3 linked regions of the Homo sapiens genome follow. The protein of the gene in region 3 purifies or fractionates together with the protein of the main gene of each other region. This does not show direct contact. Each region holds a gene or a part of one and is shown on either strand. Other genes may lie near its edges.

The links. Proteins that work in one complex are often made in the same cells at the same time.
Region 1: the proteins of WDR90 (region 3) and HELZ purify together in Homo sapiens (affinity purification with mass spectrometry; one large-scale study listed by BioGRID and IntAct). This does not show direct contact.
Region 2: the proteins of WDR90 (region 3) and PASK purify together in Homo sapiens (affinity purification with mass spectrometry; one large-scale study listed by BioGRID and IntAct). This does not show direct contact.

The regions. Positions count from the first base shown.
Region 1 is NC_000017.11:67,069,570-67,074,958, forward strand, and holds the end of HELZ (probable helicase with zinc finger domain), read right to left. Parts: 3' UTR 875-5,389; downstream 1-874. UniProt on the Homo sapiens protein: May act as a helicase that plays a role in RNA metabolism in multiple tissues and organs within the developing embryo.
Region 2 is NC_000002.12:241,125,099-241,129,734, reverse strand, and holds part of PASK (PAS domain-containing serine/threonine-protein kinase), read left to right. Parts: intron 1-2,283; coding exon 2,284-3,539; intron 3,540-4,636. UniProt on the Homo sapiens protein: Serine/threonine-protein kinase involved in energy homeostasis and protein translation. Phosphorylates EEF1A1, GYS1, PDX1 and RPS6.
Region 3 is NC_000016.10:655,318-659,953, forward strand, and holds part of WDR90 (WD repeat-containing protein 90), read left to right. Parts: coding exon 1-151; intron 152-255; coding exon 256-386; intron 387-455; coding exon 456-572; intron 573-984; coding exon 985-1,220; intron 1,221-1,414; coding exon 1,415-1,554; intron 1,555-1,773; coding exon 1,774-1,904; intron 1,905-2,444; coding exon 2,445-2,575; intron 2,576-2,865; coding exon 2,866-3,027; intron 3,028-3,192; coding exon of another isoform or gene 3,193-3,207; coding exon 3,208-3,336; intron 3,337-3,578; coding exon 3,579-3,694; coding exon of another isoform or gene 3,695-3,768; coding exon 3,769-3,809; intron 3,810-3,927; coding exon 3,928-4,059; intron 4,060-4,296; coding exon of another isoform or gene 4,297-4,542; intron 4,543-4,636. UniProt on the Homo sapiens protein: Microtubule-binding protein that plays a crucial role in ensuring inner core protein localization within the centriole core, as well as in maintaining the microtubule wall integrity and the overall centriole roundness and stability.

The DNA of each region.
Region 1 (5,389 bases), on a different chromosome or scaffold from region 3:
AGGAGTCCCCCAAATCCATTTGATTTATATGGAGAGAAGTTTTTATTTCTTAAGTCCAGATTTGATTGTCATATCAAATCATCTCAAAGCGAGATACCTAGCTTAAAATGGATTCACCGCAATGAGTACAAATGGTACATTGTCCTTAGGAAAGGCTGACCGTCCCATCTACTTACATTTACAAACTTGAAGCACAGTACATTCAAGCTAGATTTATGGTGCCACATTAATAGGATGTTAAAAATAAAATAGCCAGGGCACACAAAGCCTTCTGTGACCTGCTAATGCTTCTCAAAATCACATCATGGCAGATGCAAAGAATTATTTCCCCAAGAAAAACAAGACCTTGACTCAGGGCAATTTTCTGCACAACCAGCATTTTTTTTTTTTTTTGGATTGTTGAATTAATGTTTGGCACGCATTACTGTGAAGTGCATGATTATACCTACATAATATATCACTACAAACTAGGTTTATGAGTTCTCAAATAAATTCTGGGCCGCATTAACAACTAAGTGACTTGTTAAGAGTAATTCAGGATAATTTTCTTAAATTTGTAAGATATTTGTTGAATGACTGTTTGAAAAGGGCTTATTTTCTCACTGACCACTGGAGATCTTTAAACTTTCAGGTAACACGTTTAAGTCTTAAAAGCATTACTGCTGAAGTTAGGGGATTTAAGCCAAGTCACAAATGTCTGGAAAGTAGAGTTAGAACTTTACAAATTCACACTGAGTTCTCAGTTACATTCGTTTTACCATTTACTATTAGGAATAAAATCAAAGGGCTGTGCTTAACTTCAGTCAGACCTTTGACCTTAAGGGCAGAAGGAAGCAGAGAATTATAGTTCACACATAATAAACACATCTCCAAATTATTAAAAAGGCATTTTATTATAAATACATTTTAGTTGTAGCAGTAAAATACATTTTGTTACCATGAATCTTTGAAAACAAAAGAACTTCACTGAGACAATGAGCACACTGTAGGAACTGTAGACCCCAAGTTGAAAACTTGTTCTATGGAACCAAAGTAGCTAACGTAATTCCAAAACTAAGTTAGAAAAGATAAAGACAAAGAAAGAAGAAAATAAAAACCCTAGAGAGTGGCTTTGGGGTTATTTTATGGTACAAAGTCACTTTTACTTTTAAGGATAAACTCTTTAGGTATTAGAGCCTCTTAGATGAGGTATCATTTACTGCAAAGAAAAAAAATTGTTATAATTTTGCCATAAGTTATGCCTATTTAGATGGCTGTATAACTGGTACTTTGAAGAGATGAACCTGACCACCTCAGTTTTGTACAGCTTCCCTCAGGAAGACTTCCCAAAATAAGACTCAGTATGAATTTGCTAAGTAACTGATCTATGAAGTTAGCTGAACAAGTTTAGATAAGAACTATATGTATGAAGCATTAAAAAAAAATCCTGTGTCACTAATAACAGGACCCTTTAATAAAATGCAAAACTCATTATCTTTATAATTTAGAAGAGAAGTATTTTAATCACCATATTTACCTAGGATACAACTACTACATATAGCCAGTACCTTTATGGGGTTTAAAGAATCAGGTCAGATGACTGGCACAGAAATCAGATACAGTACAATGTCATATACATGGATTTATAGGAAGCAGGCATGGTCTGGATTTATGAAAATCCAGGACCCTTCCTCTGTAAAGGGGGAGGCTGAGAAACATTCTCAGCTGCACTGACACTTTGGGACTTCAACCAGGACAAAGAGCCCTCTGACCTACTGAAAGATATAAAGAGGTCTTCGCATACAAGTTATCGTGCAAAGCAAAGTGTAAATAAACCGAAGCTCCCCTCTAAGTTGGGACTGCATAAAGGAACCCAGGCTGAAAATATAAACAATCCTCTCCAAAGGTGAGCAAGCCTTTTCAGTAGGAAGGACTGTGTCTTAAGAAAACTCCAAAGCTGTATATTCTACGATGGTCTTCACGTGTACTTTTACACCTAAGTCATTCTGTATTCTATTACCATAAAAATAGCTTTTTTTTGTCTTTCTAGTAGCTCAGTAAATTCAAAGGCAAACTAAAAACCAGAAGCAGAGCCCAGTACCCCCCAAGATGCAGTCCAGATAAAACAGCAACAACACACAAATTAAACAATACCCAAAGACCTGACAGGTTTATTATATTATAGGCAGTTTCTTTCTCAAAAATAACTTGCTCATACATGTGCACCTATGACTTATGAATAATTCATGCTGTGTAGGTGGTAGATCCCCCTAGGCTGTTTTGCAAACACATATAGATTTTTTTAAAGGTAGCAAAGTAATCAGAGACATTTATTTTCTGCCATATGTAACACTTCAGGCTCTCTCTAACACCTGCTGGCATGGCAGAGAATCTAAAATAACTTTGTTAACCTGAGAAACACATAATTTGAAAAACAAATCCTTTGCCCTCACCACCCTCCCCCACAAAAAAAAAAAATAATAATAACCATAAAAACTAAAACATTTGCCAGGCGCAGTGGCTCATGCCTGTAATCCCAACACTTTGGGAGCCCGAGGCGGGCAGATCATGAGGTCAAGAGATGGAGACCATCCTGGCCAACACGGTGAAACCCCGTCTCTACTAAAAAATACAAAAATTAGCTGGGCGTGGTGGCGCATGCCTGTAGTCCCAACTACTTGGGAGGCTGAGGCAGGAGAATCACTTGAAGCCGGGAGGCGGAGGTTGCAGTGAGCCGAGATCATGCCACTGTACTCCAGCCAGGGCAACAGAGCGAGACTCTGCCCCGAAGAAAAAAAAACAAAACTATTATTTTATTATTTAAGGATTATCTGTGGTTTTCGATGCTCCATGTCACTGCCATCTTAGGACAGGGACTCCTGCACTTAGTGCCTCGATACATGCTAGGTGCACTCTCATGGCATTCTGATGGCTTCTTTCCAGGATTCTCACTTCCATGCATGTGGATCAAGATTGACCCTAAGCACACCAAACAAATGCACAGCTTCCAGACTGATGTCCAGGCAGCAGCGTACACAAAAGCAAACTCACCCTAAAACCAAAGAGCTCCTTCACCCTACTGCGGAAGAGCAGTGCAGACCCCAGCAGGGGTGAGAGTGAGGAGGGGTGGTGGCCAATCCAAAGGGCCTGTCGCTCCATGGAGACCTTTCTCCACAAATGTTCCAGTCATGGCACCAGATTTATAAAAATGTCTCCAGAGATCAGTTTTTTACACTGAGTAAATAAATACATGGTTGAAAAGACGTTCAGACTCTGAAGGTCTCTGAGACTTTCAAACTGCGAGAATCAGACCCAGTGATTTTCAAAGTGTGGTTCCTGGACTGGCAGCATCAGCATCGCCTGGAAACTTGTTGGAAATGCAAATCATCAGGCTCCAGACCAAAATCAGAAATGCTGGGGGTGGGTCCAGCTATCTGAATTTTAACAAGACCTCGAGGCAATTCTGATACTGGCTGAAGTTTGAGAACCATTGCTCCATCCTGTTCACAATTCTCAAATCTTAAAACAGGACAGATCTGTAAATAGTACTATGTGACTTCTACTCTGTGTTGCAACCTATGTAATTTGCCACCCTTTCCCCTTTACTTCTCAAACATTAAAAAAGTATTAATGAAAACACTTCATAAAATCAAAAATTTCTTAAAAGGTAATATCGATTTCCCCTCCTCTACATAGTTCTAAGGCAGGCAATCACATGCTAGTATGCAAAGTAAAATACAGAAGAGACCTCATATATGAGGTAGAAACAGTTAAAAAGACTCCCCACGAACATAATGAAAATTTCATAATATTGTTTAATGAACTCATAGAATTATATAAAACTTACTATGCTTTATGCTTAATATCTGTATCAAAATAAAATCTCTCTGTTGAACAAATTGCAAATAAAGTCTGGTCTAATACTCTGATAACTGAAACTATATGAATGTCTCTGGGTTTTCTTAACACTCCAGTTTTAGACGCTTTAGACGACCACTGCGGAACTGGGTTTGGTATTTAACCACAGTTCACATTTCTAAGTCTAGATTCTTCTATTAGGTACCTCCCTCCAAAAAATTTTTAGAAACTCTGGTGACTGTTTCCTTAAACTTCACTCCAAAGTAGACATTCTCAATTGGTTCAAAAATTTTAAACGTTACATTAAAATTGTTTTTAAATCTCTTGAATCTCATATTCTAGTTTAAAGTAATAACAGGATGTGTTTAGTAAGATTCACTCCTTGCAACAATGGTCTTGACATTACTGATTAAAAAGGTATGAAAGTAGAAAGTGTGAATTTAGCAGCTTTAAAGTCTCAGCTAATAAATGTCCATCCTCAAGCAGATGGGAAATGTGAGGAGCATATCATAATGAGCATTTTCAAGACTAACATGCCAGTTACTCTTTCAAGATGGAGATGGTGTCTTTGTAAGTGATTGGCACCACTACGTGATATTTTGAACAAGAAATCGTAGATAGAACATTACCTATTCTTTCTAATTTCTAGGCGGTTTGAATGTGGATCAGATGGCAAAGAGTGGAGACAAATCAGATCCATTAAGACATTTATACCTTGAGATTCAGGAAGACATATAGCGCGGCAGTAGAAATTAAGGATTTTCATATGTTAAGGGGATGGTGAGCAAGAAATAATGTACGGTAAATCATAAAAGACAAATTACTACCATTGAGGAGCTGGAGGGAAAAAAAAAAACACAATGGCTAGCTTACATGACATTTGAAAGCACCAATTTGTATCTTTCAATACATTTAAAGTTTTAACCTTGTATTTTTATAGATTCTTTCTGGGATTCCCTTTTTAAAAATAACTCCACTATAAAACAATGCTATAGAAGGTGTCTGTTTTTAAATGAGTATTTCAGTAAGTCTAATTTTCTTAATAACAATGGTTGAAATACTAAAATTTATCTTGAAATTGTTCTTCACACCCTGACTCTTAACAAAGGTGGCTCGCTCTAGCTAAGGGGGCTAGAGAAACATCTTTTACGTCTGCAGCTTTGCTCTTGACATGAAAAATATTAAACACATAAAATCAACTACACTAGAGCAACACAATACTATATATTAATTATCCCAAAGTTGGGAAATTCATTAGCTTTCTCAGCAGCTCCAATGCCTCCATAAAAAAGGAGAGTATTTTCATAAATTGGTCTTAGATGTTGCTATGTTTAATTAGGTAATGCTTATTCAGTGGGAATTCTGCTTATTTTACTTATTCTGCAGTTCTCTGAACTGAAAAGACCAGTTGATGTTTACATTAAACCTAAACTTATTCTAAAATCTGATGATTTAAAAAAAAAAAAAATCTACACAAAGCAGTTTGTTATTTCACGTGTAAAAAATGACCTGGATAGAAAGCACATCTGTGTGAGGAAAGGAAAATTAAGGT
Region 2 (4,636 bases), on a different chromosome or scaffold from region 3:
TGAGTGGCGTGGCGATGCCTGGCTGCCAGGGCAGCTGGAGGATGTCCTCATGTTTCCTGAGTTGCTGTCATGCTGAAAGTCAGAGATCCACAGTTTCACAATCTCTTAGCCAAAATTATGAAATCCAAAAAGCCCCCAACACTGAAATATTTTTCTTAGAATTGATGCTAAAAGCATTGGACGGTCAAATTGGCCCTAAGCACGTGAGAAGCTGTTTGTGGTTTTCCCTTGACCTCTGCAGTTTGAGTGTTCAGAGGCCTTGCTGCAGACACAGGGCAGTGGATGCCCGTGAAGCCCTCTCCCCAGCCTGCTGGGGTCTCCCTAGCAAGTGGTCATATGACTTTTCTGAAATCCCCAAACACATCTGGCCCAAGGGTTTTGATGGAAGGGCCGTGGACCCAGGTGACTGTGGAGAGAACGGGTACTGAGGCTGCAGCAGCCCGCTAAGGCCCCAAGAGCATGGGTGAAGATGCAGTGCTGCCCAGGGGCCTCAGCTTTGTGTCTGGACTGTGCCCCAGAAGTTGCCCAGACTCTTTGGCAAGGGGCTTTGTGAGACCCTCGTGGTGTGCATTCGCCTCCTGTCTTACCTGATCCTGCAGGAGGATGTGCAGTTTCCTAGCATTTGCATGGGGTTTGTCTCAAGCATGGGATGGATGGAGAGCGGGAGAGGGAGGTACAGGGGAGAGAGAGATGGGAGACATGGAGGGAGAGAGGCGGGAGACATGGAGGGAGAGAGGCAGGCAGACGCAGACCCTCAGCCTCCCCCTCAGTTCCCCTCAGAAAACTGCTTTTCCTCAGAACTTGGCTCACAATCCCTTTCTCTGTGGAACCCACCCTTGGGTTGTATCCTTCCTCTTCCGTCTTTTTTTTTTTGAGATGGTCTTGGCCATTGCCCAGGCTGGAGTGCAGTGGTGCGATCACAGCTCACTGCAGCCTAGACTCCTGTGCTCAAGCGAGGTTCCCGCTTCAGCCTCCCAAGTAGCTGAGACTACAGGTGTGTGTCACCACGCTGGCTAATTTTTAAATGTTTTGTAGAGACGAGGTCTCACTATGTTGCCCAGGCTGGTCTCGAACTCCTGGGCTCAGCCTCCCACAGTGCTGGGATTACAGGTGTGGGCCACTGTGCCCGATCCTGTCCTCTTTCTGAGCCTCTGGTATACCTTTATTAGGTTGCTGATGTTAACCTGTGTGTCTGTCCCCGAGTGAGGTGGTGCGGTCACATTCTGTGCATCTGGTGCCCAGTGTCAGTCTGTCATGTGGAGGCCAGTGGCTGGGCTGACAGGAGGCCTGGGTCCCTTGGCTCTGTGATCATCCTGTCTGGACTGTGGCAGCCTCCTCATGGGTCACCATGTGCTGAATGCTGGAGGACATTGTGTGCCACCTCTTAGGAGCCGCCCTCACCAGCCTCCTCTCTCTTTTTCGGCCCGTGTCCCCTTCTTTTTTTGTTTGTGTTTGAGACGGAGTCTCACTCTGTCACCCATCTCACCAGTGAGCTGGTACAATCTCAGCTCACTGCAACCTCTGCCTCCCAGGCTCAAACCATTCTCCTGCCTCAGCCTCCAAGTAGCTGGGATTATAGGTGCCTGCCACCTCACCGGGCTAATTTTTGTATTTTTAGTAGAGACAGGACTTTGCCATGTTGGCCAGTCTGGTCTCGAACCTCCTGACCTCAAGTGATCTGCCCACCTCGGCCTCCCAAAGTGCTGGGATTACAGGCGTGAGCCACCACGCCCGGCCCCCTGGCCCCTGGCCCCTTCTGTGTGGGCCCCATCTGAGAGCCATTTCCCAAATCTGAGAGCCATTTCCCTAGTCGGCTGTGAAATCGGATGGTGTTTGTAGTCAATCAGTTGTTTTTTTACTGTTGTGGAGTTTACCAGGGACTCTCCAATCTCTCTCTCGTTTCCTCTCACACCTCCTCAAGGCAGCAGCACGGACTTCCCCTTGCAGGTGGGGCCGAGGCTAGGCTGCACGGCTGACGGGGGGTTTGGGGGCCCTGAGATGAAGCGAGAGCGCTGACCAAAGCATTGGCAAGTTCTCCTGTACTTTACTGTTGGGCTTTTGGTAGCATTCTCTGCAAAATCATTTCTAAATGTGGACTTAATTTGGAGAAATTTGAGACTAAGTGCTTTATTTTTTAACTTGGTCACAAAATTTGGTCTTTTTCTTGTTATAAATTGGTGGCATTAAATGCTTTGTACTTAGTTCTAATGGAGAATCGGTGCAATCTCTCCTTTTGACTCATCTGTGGCCCTACATGATGGTCACCCATGTCATTATCCCCAGGGTGGACAATGTCCCAGAAGGAAGCCTGCCAGTGCACGGTGAACAGGCGCTGCCCAAGGACCAGCAAATCACTGCCTTGGGGAGAGAGGAACCTGTGGCAATAGAGAGCCCCGGACAGGATCTTCTGGGAGAAAGCAGGTCTGAACCAGTGGATGTGAAGCCATTTGCTTCCTGCGAAGATTCTGAAGCTCCAGTCCCAGCTGAGGATGGGGGCAGTGATGCTGGCATGTGTGGCCTGTGTCAGAAGGCCCAGCTAGAGCGGATGGGAGTCAGTGGTCCCAGCGGTTCAGACCTTTGGGCTGGGGCTGCCGTGGCCAAGCCCCAGGCCAAGGGTCAGCTGGCGGGGGGCAGCCTCCTGATGCACTGCCCTTGCTATGGGAGTGAATGGGGCTTGTGGTGGCGAAGCCAGGACTTGGCCCCCAGCCCCTCTGGGATGGCAGGCCTCTCGTTTGGGACACCTACTCTAGATGAGCCGTGGCTGGGAGTGGAAAACGACCGAGAAGAGCTGCAGACCTGCTTGATTAAGGAGCAGCTGTCCCAGTTGAGCCTTGCAGGAGCCCTGGATGTCCCCCACGCCGAACTCGTTCCGACAGAGTGCCAGGCTGTCACCGCTCCTGTGTCGTCCTGCGATCTGGGAGGCAGAGACCTGTGCGGTGGCTGCACGGGCAGCTCCTCAGCCTGCTATGCCTTGGCCACGGACCTCCCTGGGGGCCTGGAAGCAGTGGAGGCCCAGGAGGTTGATGTGAATTCGTTTTCCTGGAACCTCAAGGAACTCTTTTTCAGTGACCAGACAGACCAAACGTCATCAAATTGTTCCTGTGCTACGTCTGAACTCAGAGAGACACCCTCTTCCTTGGCAGTGGGCTCCGATCCAGATGTAGGCAGTCTCCAGGAACAGGGGTCGTGTGTCCTGGATGACAGGGAGCTGTTACTACTGACCGGCACCTGTGTTGACCTTGGCCAAGGCCGACGGTTCCGGGAGAGCTGTGTGGGACATGATCCAACAGAACCGCTTGAGGTTTGTTTGGTGTCCTCTGAGCATTATGCAGCAAGCGACAGAGAAAGCCCAGGACACGTTCCTTCCACGTTGGATGCTGGCCCTGAGGACACGTGCCCATCAGCAGAGGAGCCAAGGCTGAACGTCCAGGTCACCTCCACGCCCGTGATCGTGATGCGCGGGGCTGCTGGCCTGCAGCGGGAGATCCAGGAGGGTGCCTACTCCGGGAGCTGCTACCATCGAGATGGCTTACGGCTGAGTATGTCCCGGGCCCCATAGGAAGAAGTGTGGTGCTCCCAGAGCACAGTGCAGTGGGGGTGCAGGGCCTTCCTTGTTCTGGGGTCTGATGGGGTTTCACCCTGGAATAGTGTTAGCAGAAATCATGTTTTCAAGGAGAATGCATATCATCCACCCCTAGAAAATTAAGATTACGAATGTGTGTGCCTGGGGAGGGTGGCGCCCAAGGTCCCAGGCCACCTGCCCCATGCCCGTCAGTTCCAGCTGTGCCCCCTGACTCAGGCCATACACTTAGAGAGCCGCTCCTCCCAGCAGCCTGGGGAGATCCCGTCGGGAGCAGGAGAAGCGTGGGGGTGTCACGCTAGAGTCTGTCTCTCCACCTCCCACCAGCCCCCACCTCAGTGGTCACACAGACAGGCCGAGAGGGATGTGAGCGTGGTGAGATGCTCACGTGTTCTTCTTCCGTGCTTTTGGTGTTTAGGCTGCCCTGATCTCTGAAAAACCTGCCCTTCTGTGAGGGTCATGTGATCGGGCCCCTCTGCTTGCCCCTTTGAGATTGATTCTGTTTTACTTTCTTTTTTATTTTCATTTCTTTTTTTTTTTTTTTTCTTTTTTTTTGAGACAGAGTCTCTCTCTGTTGCCCAGGCTGGAGTGCAGTAGCGCGATCTCAGCTTACTGCAAGCTCCGCCTCCCGGGTTCATGCCATTCTCCTGCCTCAGCCTCCCTAGTAGCTGGGACTACAGGCACCCACCAGCACGCCCGGCTAATTTTTTCTATTTTTAGTAGAGACGGGATTTCACTGTGTTAGCCAGGATGGTCTCGTTCTCCTGACGTCGTGATCCGCCCGCCTCGGCTTCCCAAAATGCTGGGATTACAGGTGTGAGCCACCGTGCCCGGCCTATTTTTTTTATTTTTTGAGACAGAGTCTTACTCTGTCCACCCTAGCTGGAGTGCAATGGCATGGTCTCGGCTTACTGCAACCTCCGCCTCCTGGGTTCAAATGATTCTCCTGCCCCAGCCTCCTGAGTAGCTGGGACTACAGGCGTGTGCCACCACACCCAGCTAATTTTTTTGTTTTTTTAGTAGAGACAGTGTTTCACTATGATGGCCAGGCTGGTC
Region 3 (4,636 bases):
GCGGGCAGGGCAGTGTGCGGCTCTGGCGGCTGCGTGGCGGGGTGCTGCGTTCCTGCCCCGTGGACTTAGGGGAGCACCACGCGCTGCAGTTCACCGACCTGGCCTTCAAGCAGGCCCGGGACGGCTGCCCGGAGCCCTCGGCTGCCATGCTGTGAGTCCCTGCCCTTCCCCACGGCCTGCCCCGGCATGGGGGCCCTGGTGCCTGGGCCTCCCCTTCCCTGAGGGCCTCACCTTCCCTGCCGCCTCCTCGGGCAGCTTCGTGTGCAGCCGCAGTGGCCACATCTTGGAGATTGACTGTCAGCGCATGGTCGTGCGGCATGCCCGCCGCCTGCTCCCCACACGGACTCCAGGCGGTCCCCACCCACAGAAGCAGACCTTCAGCTCAGGTAAGAGGGCGCCCACCACGTGGCCAGGGTGGCAGGGACACCGAGGCACTGACGCCTCCCTGCCCCCAGGCCCCGGCATTGCCATCAGCAGCCTCAGCGTCTCCCCGGCCATGTGTGCTGTGGGCTCTGAGGACGGCTTCTTGCGGCTCTGGCCCCTGGACTTCTCCTCGGTGCTCCTGGAGGCAGGTGATGCTGTGGGCACGCTCTCCCAACTCCGGGAGAGCCTCGCCTGGATGCTGGGGCGGGGAAGGCCCAGTCCCCGGGGCTCTGCTGTCAGCCGCCCTGGCTCCTGGCTGCACAGGGTGCCACGGGGCCAAGTGGCATATCCAGAGCCCTGGGGCGGCTGATGCCAGGGCGGCCCGCGGGGCAGCCTCACGGAAGGGCCCGGTGGGACGTGGGTAGTGTGTGAAGCCCCTCAGCCTGGGTCCCGCCTAGCCTAAGAGTGGTGGCCTCGAGGGAGCTGCATCTTGCAGCCGTGTGGAGCCTGGGACTTTGAGCAGCAGGGAGTGCATTTGCTGGGGTGTCGGGGACCCGAAGCCTGAGCATGCGGCTCACCCCGGGGTGGCCCTGGAGGCCCCTGACCCCACCCCACCCACAGAGCACGAGGGCCCCGTCAGCTCAGTCTGTGTCAGCCCCGATGGCCTCCGTGTGCTGTCTGCCACCTCCTCGGGCCACCTGGGCTTCCTGGACACGCTGTCCCGGGTGTACCACATGCTGGCTCGCTCCCACACCGCCCCGGTGTTGGCCCTCGCCATGGAGCAGAGGCGGGGACAGCTGGCCACCGTGTCCCAGGACCGTACCGTCCGCATCTGGGACCTGGCCACCCTGCAGCAGGTGGGGTTTGGCAGGGGCAGCACGGCAGGGAGGGCCGGGAGGTCCTGAAGCTGGGGTTTGTCAGCGGGGGTGAGAGGGGCCTATAGGGACCTGGACTTTCCAGCCTGTGTCGGCCCCATGGGTTTGGGCCGCCTGGAGAGCCCCTGGGCCCTTGAGATCCCTGCCCTCCCCTCAGCACGGCCCCTGTCCCACAGCTATACGACTTCACATCATCAGAGGACGCCCCGTGCGCTGTCACCTTCCACCCCACAAGGCCAACCTTTTTCTGTGGCTTTAGCAGTGGGGCCGTGCGCTCCTTCAGCCTGGAGGCCGCTGAGGTCCTGGTGGAACACACGTAAGTGCCCAGCTGGCCACCAGCCCCACGGAGACCCCACGGTGGAAGCTGGGGTGGCCAGGTGGGGGTCATGTGCAGGATGGCCAGTGCTGGCTGGAGCCCCACCCTTTGCTGCCCCATGGGGACTTCCATGGCCAGGCTGGTTGGCTGGAGGTCGAGGGAACCCATGGTACCTGGGCTTCGGGGCTAGGGCCAGCGGGGTCCCTGTGTGTGCTGCAGGTGCCACCGAGGAGCTGTCACCGGCCTGACCGCCACCCCTGACGGCCGCCTGCTCTTCAGCTCCTGCTCCCAGGGCTCCCTGGCCCAGTACAGCTGTGCGGACCCCCAGTGGCATGTCCTCCGAGTGGCAGGTTGGGCCCCCTGCAGCCACTCTGGGGGACTCCTCAGGGCGGGGGAGGCCTGGATCTGGTGCAGGCCCACACCTGGACACACATGCCGGTTTCCTGGTGCACCGACTGGGTCCTGTGGGGGGGCGTGGCCGCCTCAGTAACCTTGTCAAGGCCCTGAGGAGACTGTGGTTTAGCGTTCACTGGACCCCAAGGCCAGAGGTCAGCTCGGGTCTGTGCCCAGGAGGCGGCAGGCAGCCCAAGCTCCAGGTCAGCAGCTGGAGTCAGACCCAGGCATGGGCACCTGCCCTGTCCTGCGGCCACCATAACTTGGGCCCCCTGAGTGGTCACTTATGACTACTGCTGGCCCACGGGGACTCCCAGCTCCCCTGGCAGCGCCTGGCGCCCACTGGCACCTTGGCAATCCTCTGCCGGTGTGATGCGTCTGTGCTCCGGGGCTGGTGTTTCCCGAAAGTGGGGGCAGGGGCGGCGGCCTCCTCGGGCCCTGGCCACGCGCACCCCGGCACTCCCCACCCAGCTGACCCCTGCCCCGTGTGGCCACAGCGGACATGGTATGCCCGGATGCCCCCGCGAGCCCCAGCGCCCTGGCAGTCAGCAGGGATGGCCGCCTGCTGGCCTTTGTGGGACCCTCCAGGTGCACAGTGACAGTCATGGGCTCGGCCTCCCTTGATGAGGTGAGTCCGCAGCCCTCCTGGGTCCAGGGAGACTGGGCCATGAGAGGCTGGCTGCAGGGGCAGGAGGGAGGTCACGGCCACTCGGGAGCAGGACCCAGGCCCTGTCCCGCCTCCTGTCGCAGAGTACACATCAGCCATGTGGGGCCCACGTGCGGCCAGGTTCCTGTGCAGGGCAGGTGCTGCCTGGGTGCCGAGTGCGTGTCCCCGGGACCTCCCTCCCGAGCCTGACCCTGGGTGGCACCGGCTCTGCCCAGGGGCCCTGACTGTCGGCCACTTACCACTACCCCCAGCTGCTGCGAGTTGACATCGGCACTCTGGACCTGGCCAGCAGCCGCCTGGACTCAGCCATGGCTGTGTGCTTTGGCCCTGCAGCTCTGGGCCACCTGCTGGTGTCCACCTCGTCCAACAGAGTCGTGGTGCTGGATGCTGTGTCGGGCCGCATCATCCGGGAGGTGAGCCTCAGGGCTGTGGCCCGCCGACCTGGCCCTCCCTGTGCTGTCCAGGCCTGGCCTCTGTGCCTGCAGCCTCTCCAGCTGGGTGGGGGGCCGTCGCCACACCCACAACGAAGGGAGGCCCCAGGCTGCTGGCCACTCTCCTGAGACACGGCATTTCCCAAGAGCACTGTGTTCCAGCTGCCCGGTGTCCACCCTGAGCCCTGCCCCTCCTTGACGCTCAGTGAGGACGCCCGCTTCCTGCTGATTGCCGCCGGCCGGACCATCAAGGTGTGGGACTACGCCACACAGGCCAGCCCAGGCCCCCAGGTGTGTGCGTGGGGAGGCAGGTGGCTTTGGCGGTCAGGAGCCTCCTCAGGTGGCCCTGGAGACCCCTGCAGGTGTGGGTGGGGGCAGGGAGAGCAGAAGGTGAGGGGTGAGAGTGACCCCCCAAGGATCCTCTGTGCCTCCGGGGCCTCACACTGTGTGGGGCTCACCGTCCCTGGGGACTGGGCACACGGCAGCATCCATGCCCCGCCTCGGGGTCCTGCATGTGACGCCGCTACCCCTAGGTGTACATCGGCCACTCGGAACCCGTGCAGGCTGTGGCCTTCTCTCCTGACCAGCAGCAGGTCCTCAGCGCAGGGGACGCCGTCTTCCTCTGGGATGTCCTGGCCCCTACTGAGAGGCAAGTGCCTACTCTCAGCTGTGTCTGCCTAGGCCCCCCAGGCCCTCCTGAAACCCTCTCTCCTCCCTCTCCAGCGACCAAAGCTTCCCCGGGGCCCCCCCAGCCTGCAAGACAGGTGAGTGGCTGTGCTCAGCTGGGGTGCAGGTGCTGCGCTGACTCTGGGGCCCGTCCTGTGTCTGCCTAGTGGCCCTTCCTCTTCCTTCCCAAACATCACAGGGCTGCTTCTTCCCCAGGCCCGGGCGCAGGACCGCTGGAGGACGCAGCGTCCAGGGCCAGCGAGCTCCCCCGGCAGCAGGTCCCCAAGCCATGTCAGGCATCTCCACCACGGCTGGGCGTCTGTGCCAGGCCTCCCGAAGGTGGCGATGGTGAGCAGCAGGGGTCCTGGAGGAGTGGGGGGATTCGGGGGTCTGAGAGGGCACAGGCCCAGTGGCAGCAGGTACTCACGCACGTCCAGCTCTGGGGTGCAGGTGCCATCGCTGCTCATCAGGTGGAACACAGTGGGGTCGGGGTGGGGGCAGCTTTTCCTCTCCTCCTTAGCCTCATCAGGTGGAACACGGTGGGGTCGGGATGGGGGCAGCTTTTCCTCTCCCCCTTGGCCCCAGGCACCTTGTCCCCGTCAGATGAGGAAGGACCCTGTGAGGAGAGCTGTGACCCCGAGGGGCTTGGGCAGGCCTCAGGCCCACCTGTGCTCACGGAGGAGGAGGCTGGCAGGGCTGGAGACGGGGCCTGGGCTGCGGCAGTGGGCTCCTGGGGGCTTGCCCTGCCTCCCCGTTCCCCCGGCCAACCCCGTGAGCAGTGGAGGGCAGGGCAGGGACGCTGGTGCCGGTGCAGGGGCCTGAGGACGGTCGGTGAGTCCCCCGTGTGACGAGGCAAGGTCACCTGCAGTGGGACACGGTTTGCCTGCGTCTGTGGCTCCGGCCTGTGCCCCGCCGTGCAGTTCTC